Linked DNA regions of Homo sapiens. The protein of the gene in region 1 purifies or fractionates together with the protein of each later gene. This does not show direct contact. Each region holds a gene or a part of one and is shown on either strand. Other genes may lie near its edges.

Region 1 (7,027 bases):
GACACTGACAGAGGGTAGGACTCCTGGTGGTTGTTCTCCTGGTGCGGCCTGGGTCCCTGAGCTCTCTCAGCCGGGGAGAGGCGGCGGATCATGTTGTCCAGGGGGGACCGGAGGGGCCGCTGCTCGGGGTCAGGAGAAGGCCGGTGATTTGTCGTGATAGGTGACCTGGAGCGGTGCAACAGTTCAATGGTGGGAGGGTTATGGTGCACATTATCCACGGATGGCCTGGGGGTCCTCTGGACACAGTTATCTGTGGAGCAGAGGGAAAGACAATCACAGACCCCAGTGAGTTGGCAGGACAGGAAACTCCCTGCGGCTCTACAGGCGGTAAATGGAGGAGCGTGTAGGTATGTGTAAAGGACCTTTCTCCCCAGAATGCAGTGTCTTTTTCACTGCTTAACAATTTGAAGGGTGCATATTTTTTTTTTTTTTCTGTTTGAGATGGAGTCTCACTCTGTTGCCCAGGCTGGAGTGCAGTGGCACGATCTCGGCTCACTGCAAGCTCTGCCTCCCGGGTTCATGCCATTCTCCGGCCTCAGCCTCCCGAGTAGCTGGGACTACAGGCGCCCACCACCATGCTCGGCTAATTTTTTTTATTTTTAGTAGAGATGGGGTTTCACCGTGTTAGCCAGGATGGTCTGGGTCTCCTGACCTCGTGCTCTGCCTGCCTCAGCCTCCCAAAGTGCTGGGATTACAGGCGTGAGCCACCGCGCCTGGCCTTAAGGTGTGCATATTGAAACTATTTTTCTATTGCCAGACAACCTAAGGATGTCTACAAGCATTCCGTTAATGACCTACCTGTGGCCTGTAGGCACAAGGAAGCCAAACTTCCATGCCCCATCTTTTGGCCATCATTTAACTCTTCTACGTCGCTTTCAGAGGTGGAAGGGTTCTTACAGGTTTCTCTCTAGATGCTTTCATTGACTTACATTTTCACAACTAAAATTTTCATATTCTCTAACTCTAGGAGTTATTAGTATTAGTGATAATGTTAATAATATTAGTAATAATTATTAGTAATAACTATATCTTAGATGCTGGATTTCACTGTTTAAAACTTATAGCACTCCTGGCTGGGTGCGGTGGCTCCCGCCTGTAATCCCAGTTACTCGGGAGGCTGAGACATGAGAATCGCTTGAACCCAGGAGGTGGAGGTTGCAGCGAGCCAAGATCACACCATTGCACTCCAGCCTGGGTGACAGAGCAAAACTTTGTCTCAAAAAAAAAAAAAAAAAGAAGAAAAAAGAAAAAAACCCCCAACCTTATGACACTCATGACACTCCTAACCAAGAGATACCACTAGTACCCCTATTTTACAGATGATAAAACTGAGGCGTAAAGAAGTTAAATAACTTACCCAAGGTCACACAGCCAGTTAGGAGATTATAGAACCAGACTCCAGTCAGATTCTAGAACCTGTGTACTCATGACAACATCTGTCACTGCAATATAGAAACTATGACACAAAGTCACACCAAAACCTGCTCTAAGCATGCACAGTGGCCCCAATTTACAGAATGACAATCTTACTGAACTTGAAAGAACTTTTGGGAGCACTTTGCTCCTGAGTGCTCAGAGACAGGCAGAAGTAAGGAAGAAGCAGGATGGATGGACACCTCTAACTCATCCCACTCAAAGTTGCAAGCTGGTGACATGTGAGCGAGGATAACATCAGAAGTGTACACAGCTCAGCAAGAGAAGTAGCTCTGAGGGCTGGGTCGGGGAATGGACCGGCACACACCTGGCTCCAGAAGTCCCTGCTAAGGTGCAGAAGGACAGAAATCTGCCCATAAAAATGGGGATTTCTACACGGCTCCACACCCAACTCAATGAACTCTCTCTGGCCACATCTGTTCCCAGGGCAGTCTCACCAAAAGGATGTGCATGCTTGCTGTCCTTGTTCTGGTCAAAGAATTGTCCACAGTTCTAAGTAAAGCAAGTCAAACATATCACCTTTGTCCATTAAGATAATATACATATATGAAGAACACATAAAGTGAATTCCGTAATTTGATAGGGTCAGTAAACAGAGACAGACATAGTGGTTTTAAGTTTTACACAGGGTTAAGAAGAAAATGCGGACTTTTTTCTTTTTTGAAAGTTCTACTAGATCTCATCTATCATATGATCACTGAACAAAAATATTGTTCACAATATTAAAAGATCATCTCCTTGAAGGCAAAGGGCTTATTTTGTGACTACTGTATAACCCACTGCCATAAATTCAAGTGCCTCATCATTGGAATAGCTATCAATAGAAGACTGATTTAATAAATTATAGTATATATCTCTAAAAAATGGAGTACTACGTAAAAGTAAAAAGGAATGAGGAGTATCTTGATATTTTGCTAAGGACTAGCATCAGAATCTATGGTTAGATACGAAAAGCAAGATGAAGTATTTATGATCTGCCACCACTTATCTAAACAAGGAAAGGGGCAATTTCAGTTCAACAATAGCAGAGTGGCGTGTACCAAACTAACCTTCTTACGGGTAGAAATGAAAGAAACCATATTAAATACATTGAAAAAACTATTTGAAGGTATCAAGGGCAGACAAAAACCGGAGAGGATTTCACTCTTGAAAGAAGGGAACTGCACAGAGTGAGGTCCATATTTAAACAGCTTTCCCCCTGATTCTGTTGATCTCCTAACTGCCCTATGCTGCATGTTCCTCCCCAGTCCGTGCAGCACAGGGGCAGTTAGAAGATAAACAGAAAGTTGCTTGAGATAGAGTAGGTAGCTGCCAGAATGGCAGAAAATTGAAGAAACAAATCCCATACAGTGGGAGCCACAGAGGGGAGAGTGATTAAATTGGCATGTAAAAGCTTCCTCAAATTCTTGTCTGATTACCGAATAGCCCAAGTGCCAGGGAGACCCTTTGGAGTTCAGTGAAAAGCAACAGTTGTATAATCAAAAGATCTAAGCGGAAACCTCAGCTACTGGCTACTGCAGTGGAGACAGAGTTCAGAGTTTGAGTCTCATCAAGTTCAAAGGCTCTGTAAACACTTCAGGCTGTTTGTTACCCCAGAATGGCCACAATGTAGGAGTAAAAACCCTAGGACAAGGGGATCTGCTAAGGGCAAAAGGCAAAATAGAAACAGATTGGACCTAATGAAACGTAAGACCATGCCTCTACAGATTCAAAGTAACTGGCCAGTAATTTGATTGCCTCCTAGAACAAAAGTCAATACTCTTCAGTGGAATAGAACACAATCCAGTGTCTCAATGTGCTCAGCATCCAGTCACAATTTTCTAGATATGAGAAGAAATACAAACATGTGACTCATAATAAGGAGGAAAGGCCATCAAAAGAAACAGAACCTGAGATAATGCAGATGTTGGAGTTAACACAAACAAACAGAAAAACTTTACAGCAGCTATTATAAATAAGTTCAAGCCCTAAAAGAAAATCATGGTTGTAATAAATGATGACACATACAGGCTGCCAAAAGGGAAATGGAATTAAAAAAAAAGGCAAAATAAAGATTCTATAACTGAAAAGTATAATATCTGAAATGAAAGACCGGACTAGATGGACTTAATAGCAGAACGGAGATGAGAGAAGAAAGGGTTAGAAAATTTGAAGACAGATCAGTAAAAATGAAATCCAAACAAAACAAATCCTCAGTGACCTGTGGAACAATATCACGTGGTCTAACACACATGTAATTGGTGTCCAAGAAGGAGAATATAGAAAAAAACAGAGTAGAATAAATTAAAAAATAATGGCTAGATTGTCCTCAAATTTGGTAACAACATTATCAACAACAGTAAATTCGAAGGTCCAAGAATCTCAAGTAAGATATGTAAAATAAAAACCACACCCAGGTACACCATAGTCAAACTGCTGAAAACCAAAAATAAAGAGAAAATCTTGAAAGCAACCAGAGGAAAAAAAGAAACTATGTACAGGGGGAGATTATACTAATATACTATATATGCATAGTATGATATATAGTATATATATACACACACACCATATATACTATATATGATTATAGTATATATGATATATAGTATATACTAATACTATATAAGTATATACTTACATAGTATATATAAGCCTACGCTAATATATATAATATATTATATATACGAATATACTAATTATGGCTGACTTCTTTAAAAAAACCTGAAGAGAGGGACTGCTCAAACACACACACAAGAAGGTTGCAGATGGGAACCTATAGGTTGAAAAAAACTTAAGAGATACGTTAACCATCTGCAATGTATAGATGTTGTTTGGATTCTGATCCAAACTGTAAAAAACATTTATGAGATGGTTGGCAAAAAGTGAACACTAGCAGATTATTTGATGATACCGAGGAACTACTAGTTTTCAAGTGATATGATGGTTCTATTATGATTTTATAGTCTTTTTTTGAGACCTATGTTGACACTATTTTTTTTTTTTTTTTTTTGAGACGGAGTCTCGCTCTTTCACCCAGGCTGGAGTGCAGTGGCGTGATCTCTGCTCACTGCAAGCTCCACCTCCCGGGTTCACGCCATTCTCCTGCCTCAGCCTCCTGAGTAGCTGGGACTACAGGTGCCCGCCACCATGCCTGGCTAATTTTTTGTAGTTTTAGTAAAGACAGGGTTTCACCATGTTAGCCAGGATGGTCTCGATCTCCTGACCTCATGATCCGCCCACCTCAGCCTCCCAAAGTGCTGGGATTACAGGCATGAGCCACCGCGCCCAGCCTGTTGATACTATTTACAAGGGAAATTATATATCTGAGATTTGCTGTAAAATAATCTGGGATGGTGAAGGAGAGAGGAGGTAGACCACAGAGGAAGACATGATTGGCCTTGAGTTGATCATCAAAACTGGTGATGGGTACATGGTGATTCATTACACAATTCTCTTTACTTTTGTATAGGTTTGATATTTCCTGTTATAAAAAGCTTTTTTTTTTTTAAAGTGCTTAATTAACCTTGCAAGGATATAGGTTGGAAAGACAAGCACTAACTTCCTCACTTTAACCCAAATGCATAGAAATGCTTACTGGGCACCAACTAAAATGATCTGTAATCTTTTGTAGACAAGGCAAACTTTCCTTTTATAGATAATATGGATGTCAATTCTGCTGCCCATAGAAATGTATTTATCTTTTGTCCCTGGTCCACTTTTCATTTGTCACAGAATATGATCACTGTAAACAACTATTGAAGACAGTTCCAGTTTGAACTTTCCTATATTTTCTTCTAAATGCCATTTACAGAATGTCTCTCTTTACTTAAAAGCTTATTAAGGCTTAAAAATACTTAAGGATGATGAAGACCATGTATTGAAAAATCCCATTTCCTGAATCCATTTCCCATCTTATAAATTTCAAAACGGTCACAGGCGTTGGTCAGTAATCTGGTTACCTGCAGGCTTTCTTTGATGTCCTGGGCTTCAAGGCTTAGTGTGTGGGTGTGCACTCAGGGCAGGCCTTAGGAAGTCTGGGAGGACCAGGAGAGGAAGAACTTTCATGCCAAGGGTAAAGGAGGAACTGATGTAATGTCCTGGAGAGATTTCACTCTCCGTTCCTGCCCAGACCTTGGGAACAATGCAGGAGGGTGATAGTGCTTTGGATAATCCAACTCAGATTTTACTTTGGACTCAGGATCCAGGCAGGAACAGGACTTGGAGGAGCTTGATTTATTTATTTCTCCACAGATATCACTCAAAGAGGAAGTACTTGATGAAGCTGATAACATTAACAGTAGAGAACTGGATCCGAGGGTATTTAATTCCAGGCTCCTGGTGGTCTGGGCACAACCACTGTCAAGGCTGAGAGGCCTGCAATGAGACCCTGCAAGCTTTGTTTCAGTCTGCAAAGCAGTGCCCATGTATGGAGTAGGCTATGACATTCTCAGCCTGCTGCCTGCCGCCTCTGTTATTATAAGTTGGCAGCAGGGCATGGAAACTTACGAGACCAGAGCCGGCAGGCAGAGAAGCTCCGGACACAGGAAATGCACTGAGCGGACAGTGGGTGCATTAAATCCCCCAGATGTAGGAGTCTTCTGTCTAAAACAAGAAGATTTTTTTGGTCTGGCCTTGATGTCTGGGTTTGTTCTTGGTGAGCTGCCCAGCTGGAAAACTGGGAAATTATCCACATTGCCCTCATTCTGAAGGTCTTGATATGGAAGGGAAATATACAAGGAAGAGGGAGGGAAAGCCAGACATAATTAGTCCATGTGGGCACAGAAGGAAGGGAGGAAGAAAGACCAAGGACTGGCAGGGAACCGTCATTCTGGTTGGAAGTGTTTTCTGATCCCAAACCTTTTTCCTTGTAGACCTCTGTCAGACACAAATAATCCCTTCTTCTCACTGCCAAACGGCCTAAAATAAACCAGGACTTTAAGTGGGGTAATTTTCTTTACAAAAAGGTCTGATTTCTTATCCTTTCCTCTTATTAGAAAAGTTTCTCTACTTACAATTCATAAAAATTTGACCCAATTTAACCATGCTATAAATAATAAATAACCAGTAAACCTAAACAAACAGACAAAAAACTGCCTTTAGTGAAAGTTTTGACCGATAAGTTTCCAGGGAGAGCAAAGGCTAAGATCAAGTTTGCATCTCACACACCAGGATCACATTTCCACCACCGTGCTTTCCCTAAGCCCACGGATGCTGGTCAGAGAAGAAGGTCACCAGGGAGACGCAAATCAACAGGCCCAGGAGGTAATGCTCACTCAAGCCTCAGTCCACTGGGTTTCACTTTCTCCCTCTCCCAGTCATTTTGTTAAAAATTAGTGGGAAGTATGAATGATACACAGAGCTAGACAGAAGTCATAAGCTCAAGGTCTTGAGGTGGAATTCAAACTATATTTCATATACCACTCCCGGTCTCTTATGCCCATTATGGGTTGACTATCTCTCCCCCAAAATTCATAAGTTGAAGTCCTAACCCCTAGTACCCTCAGGATGTGATCTTATTTGGAAAGACGGTCCTTGCAGATGTAATTAGTTAGGATGAGGTCATTTTAAACATCCAATATGACTGGTGTCTTTATAAAAAGTATACTCTGGACTT
Region 2 (5,778 bases), on another chromosome or scaffold:
TACTTGGGAGGAAATAAATGGCCTTAAATGTAAAAATTATGTATTGAAGCAGTGTTCTTTTCTCATAAAACAGATGCAGTTCTTAATGAAGCTGCTCAAATTCTGCGATTGCTGCACATAGAGGAGCTCAGAGAGCTACAGACAAAAATCAACGAAGCCATAGTAGCTGTTCAGGCAATTATTGCTGATCCAAAGACAGACCACAGACTGGGAAAAGTTGGAAGATGAACACTTGAGGACTTCAGCTTCTCACCTACTTAGTACAGTTGGGAACCATACACTTCTGGCATGTTTGGAAATCAAAATGTCACATTCTCGGGGGAGGAAGCCCAGAAAATTGGGTATGTTCTAGAGATTTACCACCATTGCTTATTGCTTTTTTCTTTAATAAAGTTTAGGAAAGTAGAATTTTTATTATGTACTGTATGTTTGCATAAATCACCTTTCTCCTTTGTGGTTAAGGCATATATGCCAACCCCCAGCTTTGTCCTAGAGACAATATAGATCCTTAAGTCATAGGAAAACTTAAAACACTTTATTGGAGTAATCTAGAAAATTTTAAAATTGTTACATCTTTGGTATTTATAAATGTGATACTTTACTTTCTGTGGGTACTTCTATAGAGGCACTACAGGATCAGAAAATGCAAATTGAATCATTTTAGCACCTTTTGATATAAATAGAAATGCACTGATGCAGAGGTAAAAAATCTTAGAACTTTTGTTGGGAAACTATAAATAATTGGTCCTTTCCCATCAGTTCTGCATTGGCTTCTCCAACTGTCAAGGTTTAGGATTATATTGTTATATTGATCACATGTGCTTTAATTTCTTGGCCAGAAGGAATCCATGGCAAAAATCAGGTTTAGAGTCTTAAACTCTAATTCTTAGTTGAATGAATTTGATCTTTTAAATATTAATGATAAATGTTTACAAGAAGTTGCTTTAATAAGCAACAGTTAAAATTCTGTTACCTTTTTAAACTTGCAATAACAACCTTCATTTTTAAAAATACAGTAGTAAAGATTGAGGTATCAGCTTTTCACAAAAGTCTTTTTGCACTACAAAATGTTCATCTTGGATGCTCAGGAACGTCTAATGGCCAATTCCTTTTTTACTTTCTTTGCCTTTGCAGTCACTGTTCTTTAGGGTCCAGGTTCTGATTGTAAACTCCAAGTCTTCCTTTACATTACTGTACTTACTTTCTTCCTGTGAGAGAAGAGCAGGGGTGGGACAGGGTGGTGGGTGAGTATATTGTAACCAAGTTGCAACAGCAAGTCTTTGCATTTTGTGTATAAACTAGGTAGATTTAAGGTAGTAAAGACTGGCCCTCAGGGCAGGAAGAAGGCAATGGTGGCAGTGTCACAGGCAGCAGGGGTAATCAAATACCATATATATCCCTTCTCTACCCTGCTAATTTAAAGGAGCATCCTAAAGCATACTTTTTACCTGTTGGGCAGTAGGGGTAGACTGCAGTTATCCCGTAGAGGTGAGATCGTTGTTCTGGGAGATACTCATCAGTAAACTGGCCACTATGTTTATTTACTGATACAACACCATCCCTGGTAACAGAAAGGAAGAGTGAATTCAGGGACAGTCATTTACTAGATAAAGAAGTCAGTCAGCCACAGAAAATCAGTTGCAATAGAGGAAAATTTCTGGCAGCCTTCTCTGTCCCAGGGCTGGTGCTAAAGCCATACTGAAGTTTGAAGACCATTGCTCTAAATCCATTGCTCATCTCTAGCTGCATGTTAGAATCACATGATGAGCTATCAAATCAGAGTTGTAGGGCATGGTGTAAAGGGCTTAGACTTTAATGTTCCACAGTTCCTCATTTGAGAACTAGTCTAAATAGTATTTTTCGGTCCCTCAGACAATATGTCCACAGTGTCAAAAGCCAACTTAAGCCCTGTAATATAGCTCATGGTATCAAGGGTAGTCTTATTCTCTAAAGAACATATTTAGATTAATATGCTCCCTTTTGAGACATTATCCAATAGCTTTGCTACTTTTTAAGCTATATGTGAGCAATACCATTCGATTTCTGGGTGAAGTAAAAGGATGATTTCAAAAACATGAAAGGATGAAAAACATCCTTGAAGGATCTTATCTGCCAATGAGGAGGTGATGAAACAAAAGCCTCAGAGGGCTTAATGAGTCAAGTCAGGTACTGACTTTTGGTAAAACAAGTGGTGTGTCCTCTGGAACAGTTGGCCTTTTCAGGCTTGTCCAGAATTTGTGGGGCTCACCTCCTCCAGTCTGTGTGGTAGAAGTGATCTGCATAGCTTACGATGCTGAAGGGGTACTTGAGGTTGTTTTGAATGACACGCCGTCCAGTTCCATCAGGTAGTGTACACTCCAGTTTTTTGGTTCCTTTTAAAACAAAGGGGGAAAATGAGGTCCTTCAGCTGCTTTGCCAAAAATGATAGTGACATAGTGATAGTGACACAGTGATAGAATGGGGAAATAGGATATTTTACTTCCATTACAGTCATAGATTAGCAACTGTAAAATTACCTGTCCTATTACTAGTCTCCAGTTTTTAGTAGAGATTCAAACTTTCAATCCTTTTTTGGAAGACAGGATTGCATTTACTGAAATCTGGTAAGTTTCTGCCAAAGTAGGGCATTAAACATAATTATTTTTATAATTTGTGTGATTTCAAGCCTTAGCTTATAAATTATAACATCTGGGTAAATACTTGCCCTTTGTAAGCTATGTCTATAATTACTGAGGCAACCTTTTAACCAAAATCCTTAGTATTTTTAAAATATTTTCTAGGTAGGAGGAAAAAAGTGACTAAAATGGTAACATAACTCATATTTCAATGTAAAGGAATCAGTCTTAAAAATTTTTACAATAGCTAAACCATTCAAGAATTTCCAAGTTTCACATTTCTCATGGAGCCGATTTAAATTTCAAATCCTTTTAAGAAATGTAACTTGTTTTAAACAACTGGGTTATAAAAGTGACCTATGTACATTAGGCCCTTTTATTAGATTACAAATTCAAGAACAGTCTTTTTCATATTCTTTAGTATAGAACTAGACACACAGCATTTTTTCAGTTGTGCTGATAAAAGCAAACAAATGTAGGTTGCTAATACCCATGTTATTACTGAAGGAAGCTACCCTGCTACAATGCTTTCCAAAGAATGTCCTTAGCATTATAACAGATGTTTATAGGTAAGTTATAGTGACCCTCTCCCCGCATAAGAATAACTTCACTTAAGTTTGTCAATTCAACAATGGCTAATTCTTTTAACTGTTAAAAATATGCCAGGCACTCATGGTCAGGCAAGCAGTACAAACTTACTGCTTGATATATCCTTCCCTCCACCCAAACCCCAGAAAGTTCATTTTAAGACTCATTTACTAGTACTTAAATTTACTAGTACTTAAAAGTTTACAGACCAAAGAAAGGAGATCTAAGTGATGGGATTTCATTTTGTAGTAAAATCTGTTAGTGCTCACATTCACTGTGATGAGAGGTTATCTATTTGCATTCCATCAGTAGTATTACCTGCATCTGCCCAGCAGAGCAGTTTAGAGAAAGGGTCAAAGGTTAAGCCATTGGGCAATCCAATGTCTGTATTGATCAGAATTCTTCTGTTTTCTCCATCTAAAGATGACGTTTCAATTTTAGGAGCTTCTCTATTCCAGTCTGTCCAGTACAAGTTGCTGTAAGTTAAAAATCAAGATTGTAAAAGAATAGCCATGTAGCCTGTGGTAGGCAGCATCTAAGCAGCCCCCAGTGATCTCCATCTCCTCATGTATTATAGCCTTAAGCAATCCCCTTGAGTTTGGGCTGCATTAGTAGTGTCTTGCTTCTTCTAGTGCATAGAGTATAGCAGAAGTGATAGGCTATCACTGCCGATATTCGGTCTCAAAAAACTGGTTTCTGCCTTAGGGGCTCTCTCTTGCTCCCTTTGAGGGAAGCTGGATGCCATGTTGCAAGCTACCCTGTAAAGGGGAACATGTGCCAAGGAACTGATGTCCTTGAGGGCTGTTGGCCAGAGACATTAGTCTTGCCTGTAGCCCATGTGAGCATGCTTGGGCTGTGTCTTCCCCGAGCTGAGCCTTGTGATCACTGCAGTTTGGCCATTACCTGATTGCAGCCTTGTGAGAGACTCCATGCCTGAGGGAGCTCGGTGAAGACACACTTGGATTCCTGACTCACAGAAACTGTGAGACTAAATGTTATCTTACACTGCTGAGGGTTTGGGCAATTTCTTACACAGCAGTAGGTAACTAATACACAGCCATATTCCACTTTTACCTGTATCACAAGGTTTTCTGATTATTGTCACTATGTGGGAGAAGTCATTACTAAGTTACTATCAGAATCCCTGCCTCCAAGATACCCCTTGACTCAACTGCCCCAAAACCCTCCGTTTGTTGAAGTCTTGAATTGGATCTTGGGTTTTAGAATAGAAACAAATACAGCTGTTAGGAATGGCTTCGATACAAACTATGGAACTTGAAGAGATGTGGACCAGGGATTTGAGAAGGAAACTGTTCTTTCTTCTGCCAAAAATACAATTTGGTACTTGAAGGGGTACCTGGCACCCAGGGATGGAAACATTTTAAGTTAAGCACTTTACCTTTTAAATGCCACGTTAAAAATGAAATATATTCATAACAGATACTAACGAGGAAATATGGTCCTATTAAGTGGAAATAGGTTATAAGGAAACAAACAGGTTTATCGTTAGAGCAGAAATAATGTTGAAAGCACTTTTTATAAAATACTATTTTATAAAAGCTATAGAAGCTTTGAATAAATCAGTTGGGCTACAGAGAACCTCAGTGAGAGGAGAGGAAGAAACCATAGGTTTCCCCTGTTGCGAATTTCATCCCTTATGCCCAACAGATGAAGCAGAGAGAAGCTGAGAGCAAAAGCTAGAAAGCAGTTTCCACTTTGCGCTAAGGTGGAGGTGGCCAGAGGGTACAGCATGCATATCATTGCTTCATCGCTTCTGATCAGTCTCCTCCCCAAAATGATTTAATATCATCAACAACAATAAGTCTGAAACAAGCTCACACAGATATTTGGTGTAAATTATTTGGGGATTGCCAGAGGAAGAAAGTTGTAAAGGTGAAATCTATAGAAAGCAAATGAGAAATATGCAGGAAGGCTTGACAACCATTCTGTTACGCAGTTGAAGGAGATGTAATTACATGTGTTATATTGCAACCTGGTTCAAGGTGGGTTTTCTTTTTATTAAAAATTCAAGTCCTTTAGCATTTATATTTGCTGTCTGGATAAGAAAGTTCTACTTTCATATTTAAACTCATGGCTGTGATGTGGATTTCAGCTTAAAAGTATGCTTTTTCCCCAGACTCCAGAGACATGGCCAAAGTTTCATTGCCTACAAGATGGCAGCTCTCCCCAGTTTTCAGGTCAAGCACCAAGAAGGAATAAGGGGCCGGGCGCAGTGGCTCATACCTATAATCCCAGCACTTTGGGAGGCCAAGGCAGGTGGATCACCCAGGGTCAGGAGTTGGAGACCAAAATGGCGAAACCCTGTCTCGACTAAAAATACAAAAATTAGCTGGGCATGGTGGCACATGCCTGTAGTCCCAGCTACTTGGGAGGCTGAGGCAGGAGAATTGCTTGAACCCGGGAGATGGAGGTTGTAGTCAGCCGAGACTGTGCCACTGCACCCCAGCCTCGGCAACAAAGCAAGACCTTGTCTCAAAAAAAAGAAAAAAAAAAGAAAAAAGGACCTTCCAAATGTCCAAATGTCAGAAAGGCAAGCCTATGCAAAGAGTTTTTA
Region 3 (7,027 bases), 300 kb from region 1:
ACTGGTTTTGTTGGCACGCTCAATGCTGCGTCGGCTCCAGTCCGTCCAGTAGATATAATCTTGGTACTGAGTTAAGCCAAAAGGATGAGGCAAGTCATCTGCTATAACTTCACGGTTGAGCCCTATTTTCAGAAAGGCAGTAGACAGGGGAGAAGCAGAGTGATGAAATATGTGAGAATACAAGTGTCTTGCTGGCAAAAAGAAAAAAAAAAGCCCTAACATATAAAACATTACATTGTAAGCAATTTAAAATAGAAAAATTCATTTAAAAGCAATTCTAAAACGAGACCAATTCTCTGAAATCAATCTATCTTCTGACCCCATGCTTCAAACTTATATTCCTGCTACAAATCACTCAGTTTCCTAAAATTCTTGCAAATGGTCTACTTTAAATGTGGTTTTATTTTCTCTATATAAGGGTCTACAGTTCACTTTTTCTTCTTGAACTATAGAAGGAAAAGATGGAAATATATATATTTTACTGGTACAAAAGTCATTTCAGGAGTATCTAGGGAGTTATAAATTTCATTACAAGTCCAATAATAATGAAACTTTCACATAATAAAAAGATGAATCCAAGTACCTGGATCACTATTAATAACAAACAGGATACAATTCCAGAACAGAAGAAGAATGGACACATTCATATGAAGTTGTATTAAAAGTATCTAACCAATGATAAATAGCAGCCACTGATATTTGCATGGAAAGAATATACTGTTTGAGTAAAAAGTAGTAAAGCTTACCAAGCATATTTGAAGATTCTATTAAGTTGGTGTCCAGGTCTGTCCAATAAAGCCTCCTTTTAGCATAATCAATAGTTAGGCCGTTTGCCCGCCCCACATTTGGAACTAAGGTAGTACGTTCACTTCCATCCATTGCAGCTCTGTCTATCTTAGGTTTTCCACCCCATTCAGTCCAATACATAAATCTAAATTCAAAATAATAAATATTTAACATTTCAATTTTTTATTATCTGGGGGAAAGAGTCATATTCATGCAAAGTAACTAAATAAATTTAAAGAAAACATACAGCAAATCAAGGAAATGGGTTAAACAAAATCACGGCTACAATGCTTTCAATTATTTTGGCACCCTAAACTAAATATTTTTTTCCATATCCCAAAAAGGAAGTGAGTCAGCTTTCCTTAGTCTTTCCAATACATTTGTTCCATCCAAACCTAGGAATTGGAAATAAACCAACAGTTTATTGCAGTACTGGCATTTGTAAAATTAACATTCAAGAAAACAGCAAAGGTTTAAAGCTCTGGTCTCAGAATCTGGTTCACTTCTGAGTAAAATATTTTTATATACTTTTGAATATTAACTAATTTGAGTTTTTAATATGCTGAACTTACTTTTTGACTTGTGTAATCAACTCTTCCTCAAAATAAGTTGCAGAAGTACATGAAAGGTAATTATAAATACTAAGCCTTTAACTGAAGTCAAAAGCAAAGCTTGAAAATGTATTTGGTCATATGGTCCAAGGGAGCATACTATATGGTAAGAACAACGACTCACCCCTTGATGTGTCCACTGGGCAATGAACACTACACTACGCTACAACAATCTCTGTGAAATTTTAGAATAATTACTTTGCTGTTATTTTCCATTTTTGAGTTTTGCACTTTAATCTTACAGTAATCCTACAGTATAGGCTTTTTATAGATGAAGAGCCCAAAACACTACAAGAAATGTGAACAACTTATCTAATGTCTTCAAGCCAGTTAGATGACAGAGCTAGAACTAGAACCTAATCCTTGGCCAAATGCCCTTTCAAGTAAACTAGTGAGGTGCTAGTTTTTGAGACTCTTGAATACTGGAACTAAAAAAGCACATCACATGCCAGCTCTCACGAAATACCTGAGGACATATATTCACTCATCAGCCTGTCAGCTGATAGCTGACTTGGTAGCAATGTATGAACATGCTTTTCTGAAAACTGAAGGTGTCCTGCCTTTATATGCATTTGCACTTGTCATTTGACAGGCATGTGCACACCACAAGAGCCAAAGAGAAACAACTGTGAGAGAAATTTCATACTTGCCAGCAGCAACCAATTAGTCCCAACTATTAAATTTATCTGTCTGGCAGCTAATGTTTAGAGCAAAGATCACCACAATATGTCAGTGCTGACTAGATGAATTACTAGCTAATCATGGAATCAATGTCACTTCAGGGAAATTATTTTAAGTAGCAAATACAGTAAACATATTTATATGTTCACACTGTTTACTTCTTTTTTTTTTTCCAAGATGGAGTCTTGCTCTGTTGCCCAGGGTGGAGTGCAGTGGCACGATCTCGGCTCACTGCAACCTCCACCTCCCAGATTCAAACAATTTTCCTGCTTTAGCCTCCAGAGTAGCTGGGACTACAGACACATGCCACCATGCCTGGCTAATTTTTTTTTATCTTTAGTAGTTACGGGGTTTCACCATGTTGGCCAGGCTGGTCTCGAACTCCTGACCTTGTGATCTGCCCACGCCTCGGCCTCCCAAAGTTGCTGGGATTACAAGCGTGAGCCACCACGCCCGGCCTGTTGACTTCTTTTATAAGTGGAATTTTTCTTTAGATTTCAGATTTCTTAGCTGCCGGCTTTAAAAAATTTGCTGACTCTTGTAAAAAGGAACACTCGCCCTTGAAAAACATCATGTTGTGAACAGTTTATTCTATCTTGTAATAACAAAGCTACTGCCAGTTTATAATAATGATCAAACCAAACTATCCATTTTGAATTAATAAATACTCCAAAATAAAGCTTTTTAAATGTAGTTTTTTCTTAGCTCACAACATTGTTTCGGTGGGTTTACTTCAATAGGCTTGGAATCTAGTATAACTGGGAAGGAGTGCAAGCAACTACAGATGGATAATACCTCTTGGTATATATACTTAACATATCAGTATACTCATCAGTAACATTTATTAACCCATTCCCCTCTTTCTTCACCTAAAGTTAATTACGACAAGAGTAAAATTAGCTAATAATTATTCATTCAAATCAGCAAAATATCAATAGTGTTTTTAAAAGTTCATCTATCATTTAGTTCTCAGATTCCTAATACGTATTATTTAAAACATTAAGAATATCATCTGTAACTATGCCATGTTCCCCGAAATGTACACTGCAGTTGCAAAGAATGCACATGTAAAGCTGTTTACCCTTCGGCAGGGTCCAACGCGAGAGCTCTGGGACTATCTAGGTCTTTCCACACCAAAACTTGTCGGTGCTGCCCATCCAACTTTGACACCTCAATTCGATTCGTTCCTGTGTCTGCCCAGTACAAGTTCTTCCCAAGCCAGTCTACTGCCATGCCTTCTGGATAATCTAAGCCGAATTCTACCACATGTTCCAGTGCACTGCCATTCATAAAGGCTCTGCTGATGGTCTGCAAAAGAACATTAACAACTAAGTCATATGGCATAAGTCTAAACCCTATCCAGAAAGAAGGTTTGGTTTGGTTTTTGTCAGGGGCAAGAGGATCCAGAAGTGCCAAGAGGCATACTATTTCCTATTAAAATTCACATAACTTGCAAGCACAGAAAAATTTGATGTCAATCTCTAATAAATGCAACTTCAAGTTTTACTGCCAATTCAGGGGAGAAATTTTAAAACTCTAATGCACCAAAAATTTATTCTACTAACAGCAGAATGACTTTACTTTTAAAATTTATCAGTAATCAAGTGGAAAAGCTGTGACCACAATGCTACAGATCTTAATTAGTGGTCAATTTTCTAAAGGTGCTTAAGATTATGGCAAGTCATCATGCCTACCATATAAATGAATGTAACCATTATACTACCATTATAGCACTGAGTCCCATAACACTTTTAAAAATCATAATTCAAACTAATAATAGATACATCTTATCAAGTATTATCCTAAGTACGTTTTGTCCGTAGATTTTGTCACTTAATACAACAGTCCTGCAAGTATGGCATCACCCCTATTTTATGTTTTTGAGACAGAGTCTCACTCTGTCACCCAGGCTGGAGTGCAGTGGCATGATCTCGGCTCACTGCAACTTCTGCCTCCCAGGTTCAAGTGATTCTCGTGCCTCAGTTTCCCGAGTAGCTGGGATTACAGGTATGCGCCACCATGACCAGCTAATTTTTGTATTTTTAGTAGAGACGGGGTTTTGTCATGTTGGCCAGGCTGTTCTCAAACTCGTGACCTCAGGTGATCCATGTGCCTCAGCCTCCCAAAGTGCTGGGATTTACAGGCCTGAGTCACCGCACCCAGCCACCCCCCATTTTCAAGATGAGGAAATTTAGAACATCACCCAATGCAAACCAAAATTTATTTATTTCATTTATTCACTTAATAAATTTAACTGAACACCATTAGAATCCAACTCTGACTCCAACACCCCATGTTTTCGCATATTACAAAAAAGTTTACATGAGTTATCTGAAACAAGCCCAAAACAATCTGGAAGAAGAAAAGATTATTCTTCAGATTTATAGGTTGGGAGCTTCCTCTCTGGCTATCCTGGTATTCTTTTCAGTAACTATTCTAGGAAGAAGAAAATAAAGAATAACTCATTGTTGGCCTTTTCCGCCTCAGTCAGGCCCTAAAATTTTGTTTAAAGTAAATCACGAATTTTTTTTTAAAGTAAATCAACAGCCATTTTACGTGAAGCACACATTTCCTTACTCAGCTAATTGCAGAAAATGTCATTCATCATTTTCAAATGGAAGAAAGTAGAGGAAGACTATGGCTTGCAGATTTAAAACACTCTGGCAAAGTATCTGTATTAAAAAGCATCTAATAAAATACTGAATGGGCCTTTCCCTTCACTTAAAAACTTAAGGGTTTTGGCTGGGCGCGGTGGCTCACGCCTGTAATCCCAGCACTTTGGGAGGACGAAGCGGGCGGATCACGAGGTCAAGAGTTCGAGCGGCCTGGCCAACATGGTGAAACCCCGTCACTACTAAAAATACAAAAATTAGCTGGGCGTCGTGGCACGCACCTGTAGTCCTAGCTGCTCGGGAGGCTGAAGCAGGAGAATCGCTTGAACCTGGGAGGCAGGGGTTGCAGTGAGCCGAGACTGCACCACTGCACTCCAGCCTGGGTGACAGAGCAAGACACCGTTTAAAAAAAAAAAAAAAAACTTGAGGGTTTTTGTTGAACTCTGCCTGTCAAACAATGAGGGAGGTGGGTCACAGCATGAAGATTCAGAAATTCTAGAAGTTCTCCCTTTTAGTCCCTAGCTTTAATATTCCAATTCTTTTGCTAACCTTGAGTGATATATCAGTCCAATAAATTCGGTTGTCTGTCACATCAAAATCCAAAGCAGAAGCTTCTTTGACACCAGTGAGTGGAATAGCCACATTATTATTGTTTGTTTCCAGAGAAATTCGTCTGATATCTGCTCTCCGTGAAAACAAAAGGAAAGCCTCTGGGACAATGCAGGTCTTCATGTCACTGATGAGTTCAAAGCCAATAGGGCAAGCACAGCGAAGGCCCTGAGGTCTATAGAGGCAGAGATGGCTACATCCCCCGTTTTCCTCAGCACAGGGGTTGGAACCTAAAAGATTAATTATAAAAGGGGCACAGAAGGACACACACATTGATACATTCAACATATTTTCACTTTTAAATTACTTAAGCGTTTGGTTCACAAATGCCTATGATTATGTCTTGCTCCCAATCTCAAGTTTCAATTCTAATATCACAAACAAGTAATATGCAGATTAATAGGGAGTAAAAGCATGGTGAAGTATTTTCCTTTAATACCACAGTAAGCTTTAAAGTAAGGTATATTATTCATACTATCAGACTGAATTCTTTTGATGAAGGTGTGCCTGTGCATGTGTATTCAGCCCTTCAATTCAAACTGGGTAGCTAGAGTAGTAAGTCAACGTTTAAAAGGTCCCTTCTCAGTAAAAAAAAAAAAAAAAAAAAAAAAAAAAAAAAAAAAGGCGGGGGGGCAGTAAAGAAGGTTTCAAAATTGCCTCAAAACATCAATAATTTACACTGCTGACTATCTCCATCTTTTTTCATTCCTGGTTCCCATTTCTAAGAAAGCTTTGGAGTTACTCACCAATCACTCGATGAACATTTGTAGCCTTTAGGCCCATGAGGTCAGGCAGCTGATCTATGATCACTTCCCTCTCTGCACTTCGTTTATGAACTCTTTCAATGCTACGCCTCTGCCAGTCAGTCCAGTAAACATAGTCACCCAACAAAGTAAATCCAAATATGTGAGGAATTTTGTCTTCCACTAGTACTCGTCTCCCAGTGCCATCAGTATTCATAACCTTCAGGTTTAAATTCAAAAGAGAAGGGGATGAATTATGCATTTATTCTTCAGCTAAAAATAACAAATCCAACTGCCTGTTGTATAAAAATCCAAGAGTCATCTTGGTATTCCTATTACAATGCTTTCTCAAAATTACATGATGATTTTATAAAAATGATTTCAAATTTTCCATATAAGCCTCTATTTGACCACTTTTCCCCCCAATCTCATATTACTCTTCCTTCTAAAAATTCTGGCAACTTTAGATTATGCAACTCTTCTATTAAACAATTGTGGCAAAATTAAAAATACAGTATCATCACCTTAAGTTTGCACATTTGTTTTCAAATTATAATGTACCTTCATATACATTATTTTATCATATATTTTGTTTTATAACATCTTTTATTTTATCTTGAGAGCTTTGCCTATGGAAACTGAGATTCATGTAAGGTCACAGAGCTTGTAAACACAGTTGATGTCTTTTTCAGGACTTTTTCCACTTAGCATGCTTTTTATTTTGTTGTTGTTGTCAGTAACAACAAAAAACAGATAAAAGGGATCTCAATAAATCTCTCATTCCTCTGAGATTATAATCACAAAAGTATCGGGATTATATGACACCCTCTCTGCATCTAAGTTTCAAGAAACTAGGATGTACCTTCTCTTTCCAACTACCTAATAGTAACATTATTAAATTCACTCTGGCATTCATACTGTATTCACAGTGCATTCACCATGCACTATTCAGTGTTGACTTACTTGGGATACCTTTATTGACATA
Region 4 (7,817 bases), on another chromosome or scaffold:
ACAGCAACAGCATTATACCGGGCCAGGTGCACGTTAACTCACTGAATTCATGGTAGGAAGGATTCTATTCCCATTTTACAGGTGAGAAAACTGAGGCACACAAAGGTAGCATCAGCTTCCTAAGCCTCCCAGCACAGGAAGCGGCCAGGCTGGAATCAGACCCTGGGCGCAGGGGCTCTGTCCACAGTGCTAACTAACTACTCCTGCCCCCGAGGGCTGCAGCGGTGAGTGAGTGAGTTTGTCAGTGGACTGGATGTCCAAGGTCATACAGGAAAAATCCAGACTATTGTAATAACAGCCTCTAGACCGGCTGGGGCCAGAAAGATCGAGGACGCTGACACACAACTGCGCTCACTGCAGCTCTGCCAGGGATGGGGCTAAAGGTCTCACACAGGGCAGTTAGGGCTCCCCATAGCCTGGGAGAGGAACGGGGTGAGATAACAGAAACTAGGTATGGTGCCCGAAGTCAAACAGCCACTGAGCATGTAAACCCAGGTGGGTCTGACCCCAAACCCCTCCACCCCCATCAGCCCTGCAACCCGTCGCTGCAAGGGAGAAAGCAACTCAGAGGCCTCACCTGCCTACATCCCCCACCCGTGTGTGTGAGTTCTACTAAATGCCTGAGCAGTGACACAGCACGGCTGAAATTAAACGGGTTCCAAAAACGACAGGAAGCACGAGGTGAATCTCCCCAGGAAAGTGCTGAACAAATGCTGGATCGGGTTCACCGGCGAATTTCTTGGAACTGAAGAGGGGAGCTAAACACACGGGGCCCTGCTTTGGAGGGGACTCTCTCAGGGTGCTCCACACAGCACTTGGTTAACCCCACTCAGCCCTTCTGGGCTCTCCCAGAGGGCCCGGCCTTGGCCTTGGGCATCTACAGGAGGAACCTCCAGGGGGAGAGGGGGTGCCTGGACAGGCCGGCCCTGGAACAAGCACTTGGGCCCCGAGGAGAGAGGACTAGGGCTTGGGAGCTGGGGAAGTTCTCAGCACTGGGACCACTAGAACAAAGCCATTTCCGTGCGTTCACAGCTTCCAATTGCAACAGGAAGCAATCAGGAAAAATAATTAGCGGCCCACTTACTGGCTTCGCTGAGGTCCGAGGCATGTATTTCACACAGTAAAACCAGGGATATAACATCAAAACCGTTCTGCAGAAAGATTCCTCCCTTTCCTTCCATTTTAGGCCTGGATCACCACATTCACTGGGGCTCCCAGGCCTTGCTGCCTAATGTTAAAATAATCAACTCTATTTTTGCCTCACACACAACTGAACTCTACAGCTATAATTCTTTCTCCTCAGGGGCTCGAACCACATGGACGACAGGCATTTGACTCCAGCAACATCACCCCAAAACGTGCACAAAACCCAAAACTGCAATGAGGTGAAAGGCAACGCGGTCGGCCTAGAAACCCCCCCTTTAAAACAAACAGTTTCCCCAAAACCCCTTTTGCCTCCTTGACCCAGGCATTTCCGGAAAAAGGAGCGGCGCTGGCCTGTACTCCCCAGATACTGTCGCTGTTTTGTCTTCACCTTGTTTTGCTAGCTCCAGACAAGGCCCCACAATGTAAACACGCTCCTGAAAGAGGCAGATTTGGGGTGAAACTGTCCATAGAATCTCTAGGCTTGGGTCAGAGGCAGGAGGACGTGAAACAAACTCCAAGCTCCTCCTGTTCCCCGCTGTCCCCCACACCTCCAAGCAGAGGCTGCAGCCTGGGGGATCTGACTACAGGGCCACCCCGCTGCACCATTCACACTGGAAATATTCAGGGAGACAGCTGTTTGCCTTAAGGAGGCCCAGACAAAGGGGCCCGAGGTCCTCCCCGCTAAACTGCCACAAACAGAACAGGAGCCGCGGCGTGCACAGGCACTTGCGGCCGTGCCACTTGGCCAGCCATACTCCAGAAAAACAAAACACGCACATCCGAAGAGAATGATTTAGGTAGCAAGAGGCTTGCTTGAAAAACCACATGGCAATCTCCAAATTAAAAGAACATGTGTAGCGTTTCACGACTGCTTAAGTTTCCTGAGTCCTCCTGACCTCAACTCCACCCCCTGGGAAACACCAAAAGTTGGAGAGAAAGTTCCCCCGCCCTACCTCTCCCCACGGGAGTGTACAACTGAGGCACAAGCCTGCCTCCCCCACTGCCCCGCGATCTGGGACCACGTCACCTCCGCGTAGCCGACCCGGGGATGGACACTATCTGGGGACCCGGCGGCCACACGGGGCATTCGGGTCGCCCGGGCACCTGGCAGGTGTCAGTCCGCTTGGAAACCCACAGCCACGCGGCTCACAGGAGCAGCGCCACCGGCCAGGCCGCCCCGCGCCCGGGCTCAGAACTTTCTCGCTGCAACTTCAGCCCGTCCTCGGAGCACGCGGGGCGGCCGCGCGGCCGCTGGAAACAGGCTTGCGAACCGGCTCCCCGGGCCAGGCCCGCCTCCGCGCCCCAAGTCCCCGCTCGGTGCCCGGCCCGGGCCACACGGGCCCAGCGCGGGCTCGGCTCGGCTCCCGGCTTCCCGCGGGCTCGGGCAGGTGAGGACCCGCCCGCGCCGCACCTGGCGGAGCGGGCGCCCTCCTCGCCAGCCCGGGACGCAGCGTCCCCGGGGAGGGCCCGGGTGGGGAGACAAAGGGCCCGCGCGTGGCGGGGACGCCGGGGACGGCAGGGGGATCCCGGGCGCGCGCCCCAACTCGCTCCCAACTCGCCAAGTCGCTTCCGAGACGGCGGCGGCGCCCGCGCACTTGGCCGCGGGGCCGCCCGGGCCATTGTCCGAGCAACCCGCGGCCCCCGGCCGGCCTGCGCCCACCTACCCGCGGCGGGGGCCGGGCAGCCGCACAGCGCCAGCAGCAGCAGCAGCAGCAGCAGCAGCGGCCACGGCGGCCCGGGCGGCGCTGCCTCCATGTTGTCCGGCGGCCGGACGGGCCCGCGCCGCGCTCACTCGGGCTCCATGGCGCGGCGGCGGCGGCTCCTCGCGCGGCTCCCGGCGCCTCCGCCTCCCCCCTCGGGCGCCGCGGACCAGGACGACGGGGAGGAGGGAGCTGGGCGCGCGGGAGCGGAAGCCGCGCCGCGTCTCCGCCCCCCGCCGCCGCCACCCGCGCCCCCCGCACCGGCCGCGCCCTCCCGCGGGCGCCCCCCGGAGCCGGCCGGCGGCCAGGCGGCCCCAGCGGCGCAGGTCCCCGCGGCCCCTCCCCGCGCTCCCCGCCCTGCCCTGGAGGTGCCTCCGGGAGGCTTGGCGCGGGGTTTCCGCCCCGCGGGGCCCGGCGGCCGATCGGGGCCCGGAGCCAGGTGTGTCACCTGTGGAGCCTCTATGAGTGGGGAAACTGAGGCACGGAGCAGGGCGGGGTTGCCCAAGGGCACACAGCGAGGCAGTTTCAGGGCGGGCAGCCTGGGGCCCCACGGGGCGGCCCCGGACACTTGTTCTCACCTGTGGAGGGCAGAGAAGGGAACAGGGAGAGAAGTGGCCGGCTGGGAGTGGAGGTGGGTTTGAGGTTTTACTGTAAACTAAATGTGTACCCTCTACCTTAGTTATGAATTATGAGACACGAAGACTGCGAAACAGACACACTCCTCTAAAAGTGCCTCTAGGCTGACAGGGAGAAAGTCCCGCCAGGCTCCCAGACGCCACCTTTGAGTCCTTCAACAAGCCCGCCAGGGCCTCTTGCCCACCGGTGTCAGCTCAGCCACTGAACCCTCCAGGAAGAAGACGTGCTGGTAGGAGAAGAATCTCACCCAGGCACAGCCTGGAAGGGGCACAGAAGGGGCTCTGGAACCAGCAAGCCCAAGTTGGAACTCCCAGTCTGCTACTTTCTAGAACGACTGTGCCCTTGGCGGGTCTAAGTAGAACCTCTCCGCGCACTCTTTCCTCCTTTGTAAAGTGGGGACAGCAATGGCCACCTTGCAGGTTCAGAGAGGGCTTGCAGTACCTCACAGAACTGAGTGCCCGTGAACGTGTGTGTTCCTCCAGATTTGTGACAGCTTTGCCAGGCTGGAGTCAGGCTGAACGCCTCTGCCCTCATGGGGTTTATATTCTAGGAAGACCAACAAAAACAAGAAGACGGAAAATTAAAACAACAAAAGCCCCATTGACAGGCCATGAAGAATGCCATGAGAAATGAAGGGCGTTGTGCTGCAGTGTTTGGGGAAACTGGCTTAGGGAAGGAAGGACACTTGAGCTGCTACCAAGGAGCAGCCGTCCGGTGGGAGGGCAGTTCAGGAAGAGCAGACATCCACGGAGGAGGCGCTGGGGCAGAGGGCAGCCTGGTCGCTGGATTCGGGGGAGGAACCACATCAGGCCATGAGCTGGAGCTGGTGGTAGAAGGTACAGGAGAGGCCAGCCAGGGCCAGCACATGTCAGACCTCAGGCGGGGAAGAGGAATCGAGAATGCACCCCACGAGCAATGGGAAGCCAGGCTAGGATTTAAGCAGCAAAAATATTTTCCCTTCTTCCACCCTGCATCCAGCTCTACCAGCACAGCCTGGGGTTCTATTTTCAAGATAGAAGAGACCCAGACTCCCAGCTCTTCTTACACTTCTACTACTGCCACCTGTCACCCACTCATGCGTCCCCACTTGCAGCCTCGACCCCCTTCCACCTGATCTCATGGCAGCCAGGGAAGCTCCAGGGCTCGTGAGGGCTGCCATCTCAGGAAAGAAGCAAAAGCCTTCGGCACCTGCAGGGCCTGCTCCAACCACACTTCTTCCTTGACCTCTCAGCTTCCTTAGCCACTCCCTTCCCACATCTCACCCTGCTCCAGCCACAGTGGTGTCTCTGTGGGTTCTCAAACACACCAGGTGCACTCCTGCCTCAGGGCCTTTGTGCTTGCTGTTCTCTGCTGGGACTCTTTTTTTTTTTTTTTTTTTTGAGACAGGGTCTCACTCTGTGGCCCAGGCTGGAGTGTAGTGGTGTGATCGTAGCTCATTGCAACCTCAAACTCCTGGGCTCAAGCAATCCTCCCACCTCAGCCTCTCAAGTAGTTAGCTTTTGTTGTTTTGTTTTGAGATGGGATCTCACTCTGTTGCCCAGGCTGGAGTGCAGTGGGGCAATCTTGGCTCACCACAACCTCTGCCTCCCAGGCTCAAGCAATTCTCCTGCCTCAGCCTCCCAAGTAGCTGGGATTACAGGCATGTGCCACCACGCCCAGCTTATTTTTGTATTTTTAGTAGAGACAGGGTTTCACCATGTTGGTCTGGCTGGTCTTGAACTCCTGGCCTCAGATGATCCACCTGCCTCGGCCTCCCAAAGTGCTGGGATGACAGGCATGAGCCTGTCTCTAGTAGTTAGGACTACAGAGAGGGGCCATCATGCCTGGTGATCCTCCCACCTTTTCTGCTCCAACTCTTTCACCCCACTTAGCCTCGTGGCTCACTCTCTTACCTCTTCAGCTCCTCAGTCAGGCCTGAGGACCCCTGTTGAAAATTGCAAACCACACCCCCCACCACCACCACCCACTATTGCCAGCACTTTCTACTCCATTTCTCTGCTTTACTTTTCTCCTTTGTACTCATCACCACCTGACTCATTACATGTTTACGTATCTTTCTTCTCTCCACTAGCATGGAAGCTCCAGGAGAGCAGAGAGTGTAGTTTTATTCCCTGATGTGTTTCCTGTGCCCGTACCAGGGCCTAGCACACAGTAGGTGCTCAGTAAATGTGTGTTGGATGAACAAATACAGTGAAAGGATCTGATCTACATTTATAAAGAAGGCACTCTGGCTGCTGAGTGGGGATGAGACTGTCAGGAGGAAAGAGGCCCCTGTGGGGGCCTGGCCAGCAGGTGGGTACAATGGTAGCAGCCAGGAGAGAGGGCCTCTTGGACTCAAGTGGATGGGGCCTGCTCAGGGCTCCAGCCACAGGAACAAAGGGAAGGGGGCCCAGGATGGCCTGTCATAGAGGACACATTACAACTGGCCCAAAGTTCAAGTCAGGTTTCTAAATTTGGGAAGGGATACAGAAAAACTAAAGACTCTACTGGACAGTCAGTTATTGAAATGATTACATAGAAAATGTACCAAGAATTAAAAAAAAAAAAAAAAAAGCATTATGAAGGGGCCACCAGAGACTCCCAGAGAGGAAAGGGACTATGGGCTGGATGCGGTGACTCACACCTATAATCCCAGCACTTTGGGAGGCCGAGGAGGGTGGATCACGAGGTCAGGAGTTCAAGACCAGCCTAGGCAACATGGTAAAACCCCCGTTTCTACTAAAAATACAAAAAATTAGCTGGGCATGGCAGCATGTGCCTGTAATCCCAGCTACTCGGGAGGCTGAGGCAGGAGAGTTGCTAGAACCCAGGAGGCAGAGGTTGCAGTGAGCCGAGATTGAGCCACTATGCTCCAGCTTGGGCGACAGAGCAAGACTCCGTCTCTAAAAAAAAGAAAAAAAAGGCCAGATGAGGTGGCTCATGCCTGTAATCCCAGCACTTTGGGAGGCCGAGGTGGGTGGATCACGAGGTCAGGAGATCGAGACCATCCTGGCTAACATGGTGAAACTCCATCTCTACTTAAAATACAAAAAATTAGCCGGGCGTGGTGGCGGGCACCTGTAGTCCCAGCTACTTGGGAGGCTGAGGCAGGAGAATGGCGTGAACCTGGGAGGCGGAGCTTGCAGTGAGCCGAGATTGCGCCACTGCACTCCATCCAGCCTGGGCGACAGAGTTAGACTCCGTCTCAAAAAAAAAAAAAAAAAAAAAAAATTAGCTGATTAGTTGGGCTTGGTGGCGGGCGCCTGTAATCCCAACTACTCGGGAGGCTGAGGCGGGAGAATCACTTGAACCCGGGAGGCAGAGGTTGCAATGAGCCGATATCACGCCACTACACTCCAGCCTGGGCGACAGAGCAAGACTCCATCTCAAAAAAGAAAAAAAAAAAGAAAGGGGCTGTGCTGTGGCCTGGGACCCAAAGCACACTACTGCAAGGTCCCAGGGTGCCTGACTCCAACCGGAGCCTTGAGAACATTCATTTGCAAAGAATGAATTAAAATTCAGCACTATTTTATTCTGCAGGATTCCAGCACCCCAAGGACAGTCATTTTTAGACCCTTCAGTAACGTAATAAGTAACCGGAGGATGTGCTGAGCTTCCACTTCCCCAGACGGTTGCCTGTCACAGCTCATCAGGCCAACAAACTTTTCTTAGGCCTCAAATTTGGAAATGTTCACTCTCAGTTCGTTCCTTAGATGCAAGTCCATCCCAATGAAGTAACAGGGGCTCAGCACCTGTCCAATCTCATTGCTTCCGGGGACAGGGGCCCATGAGGATGTCGTTTCAGCCCGGTGACACTTGGGCAAAGTGCCTTTTGGTTTCCCTCCCAGGCTGGAACGTGCTGGCTCTGTGAAGTTACGCTGGGCACAAGAGCCCCCCCCAACCCGGCAGGACTGACTGCTGTGGTCAGAGGCGCCCCTGGGGCTTTGGGAGCCACAGAATCTTCCTGAGGGCAGCGCCGGAGGAGGCCCCAGTGAGAGTGCCCACTGCCAGGCTCATTCCTCAGGCTGCCGCAGGCCTCTCCCCAAAACAGGCAATGCTTCTCAGCAACCTGCCCCAGGAGCAGGCCAGGGAAGGCCGCCATCGGCCTACAGTGCTGGGCTCTGGAGGGCTTGGTTGGTAACAGGCCATGGTTTCTATGAGCCAGCTGGGGTGTGAAGGACACAGGCTGGATTCACCTCTCTGGGCCTCAGTTTCTGCATTCAAAAAGTGGGAATCATGATATCTGCTCTATTTCTTATCTCTCAGTGCTGATGTGAACCTCCAATAAGACTTTTAAAAATACTCTTTCTACCTTACTTTTATTTTTCATTTATTTTAAGATAATGTCTAGCTGTC

The links.
Region 2: the proteins of ETV6 (region 1) and NID2 purify together in Homo sapiens (affinity purification with mass spectrometry; 3 studies listed by BioGRID and IntAct, with this or other methods). This does not show direct contact.
Region 3: the proteins of ETV6 (region 1) and LRP6 purify together in Homo sapiens (affinity purification with mass spectrometry; 5 studies listed by BioGRID and IntAct, with this or other methods). This does not show direct contact.
Region 4: the proteins of ETV6 (region 1) and LRP5 purify together in Homo sapiens (affinity purification with mass spectrometry; 4 studies listed by BioGRID and IntAct, with this or other methods). This does not show direct contact.

The regions. Positions count from the first base shown.
Region 1 is NC_000012.12:11,862,647-11,869,673, reverse strand, and holds part of ETV6 (transcription factor ETV6), read right to left. Parts: intron 251-7,027; coding exon 1-250. UniProt on the Homo sapiens protein: Transcriptional repressor; binds to the DNA sequence 5'-CCGGAAGT-3'. Plays a role in hematopoiesis and malignant transformation.
Region 2 is NC_000014.9:52,004,289-52,010,066, forward strand, and holds the end of NID2 (nidogen-2 precursor), read right to left. Parts: exon of another isoform or gene 3,680-5,778; coding exon 3,522-3,679; exon of another isoform or gene 2,373-3,521; coding exon 2,249-2,372; exon of another isoform or gene 1,562-2,248; coding exon 1,449-1,561; exon of another isoform or gene 1,209-1,448; coding exon 1,198-1,208; 3' UTR 521-1,197; downstream 1-520. Other genes in the region: RTRAF (RNA transcription, translation and transport factor protein), read left to right, coding at 74-228.
Region 3 is NC_000012.12:12,159,034-12,166,060, forward strand, and holds part of LRP6 (low-density lipoprotein receptor-related protein 6 isoform b precursor), read right to left. Parts: intron 6,263-7,027; coding exon 6,046-6,262; intron 5,530-6,045; coding exon 5,240-5,529; intron 3,387-5,239; coding exon 3,160-3,386; intron 932-3,159; coding exon 747-931; intron 123-746; coding exon 1-122. UniProt on the Homo sapiens protein: Component of the Wnt-Fzd-LRP5-LRP6 complex that triggers beta-catenin signaling through inducing aggregation of receptor-ligand complexes into ribosome-sized signalosomes.
Region 4 is NC_000011.10:68,307,799-68,315,615, reverse strand, and holds the start of LRP5 (low-density lipoprotein receptor-related protein 5 isoform 1 precursor), read right to left. Parts: upstream 3,026-7,817; 5' UTR 2,902-3,025; coding exon 2,811-2,901; intron 2,168-2,810; exon of another isoform or gene 1-2,167. UniProt on the Homo sapiens protein: Acts as a coreceptor with members of the frizzled family of seven-transmembrane spanning receptors to transduce signal by Wnt proteins.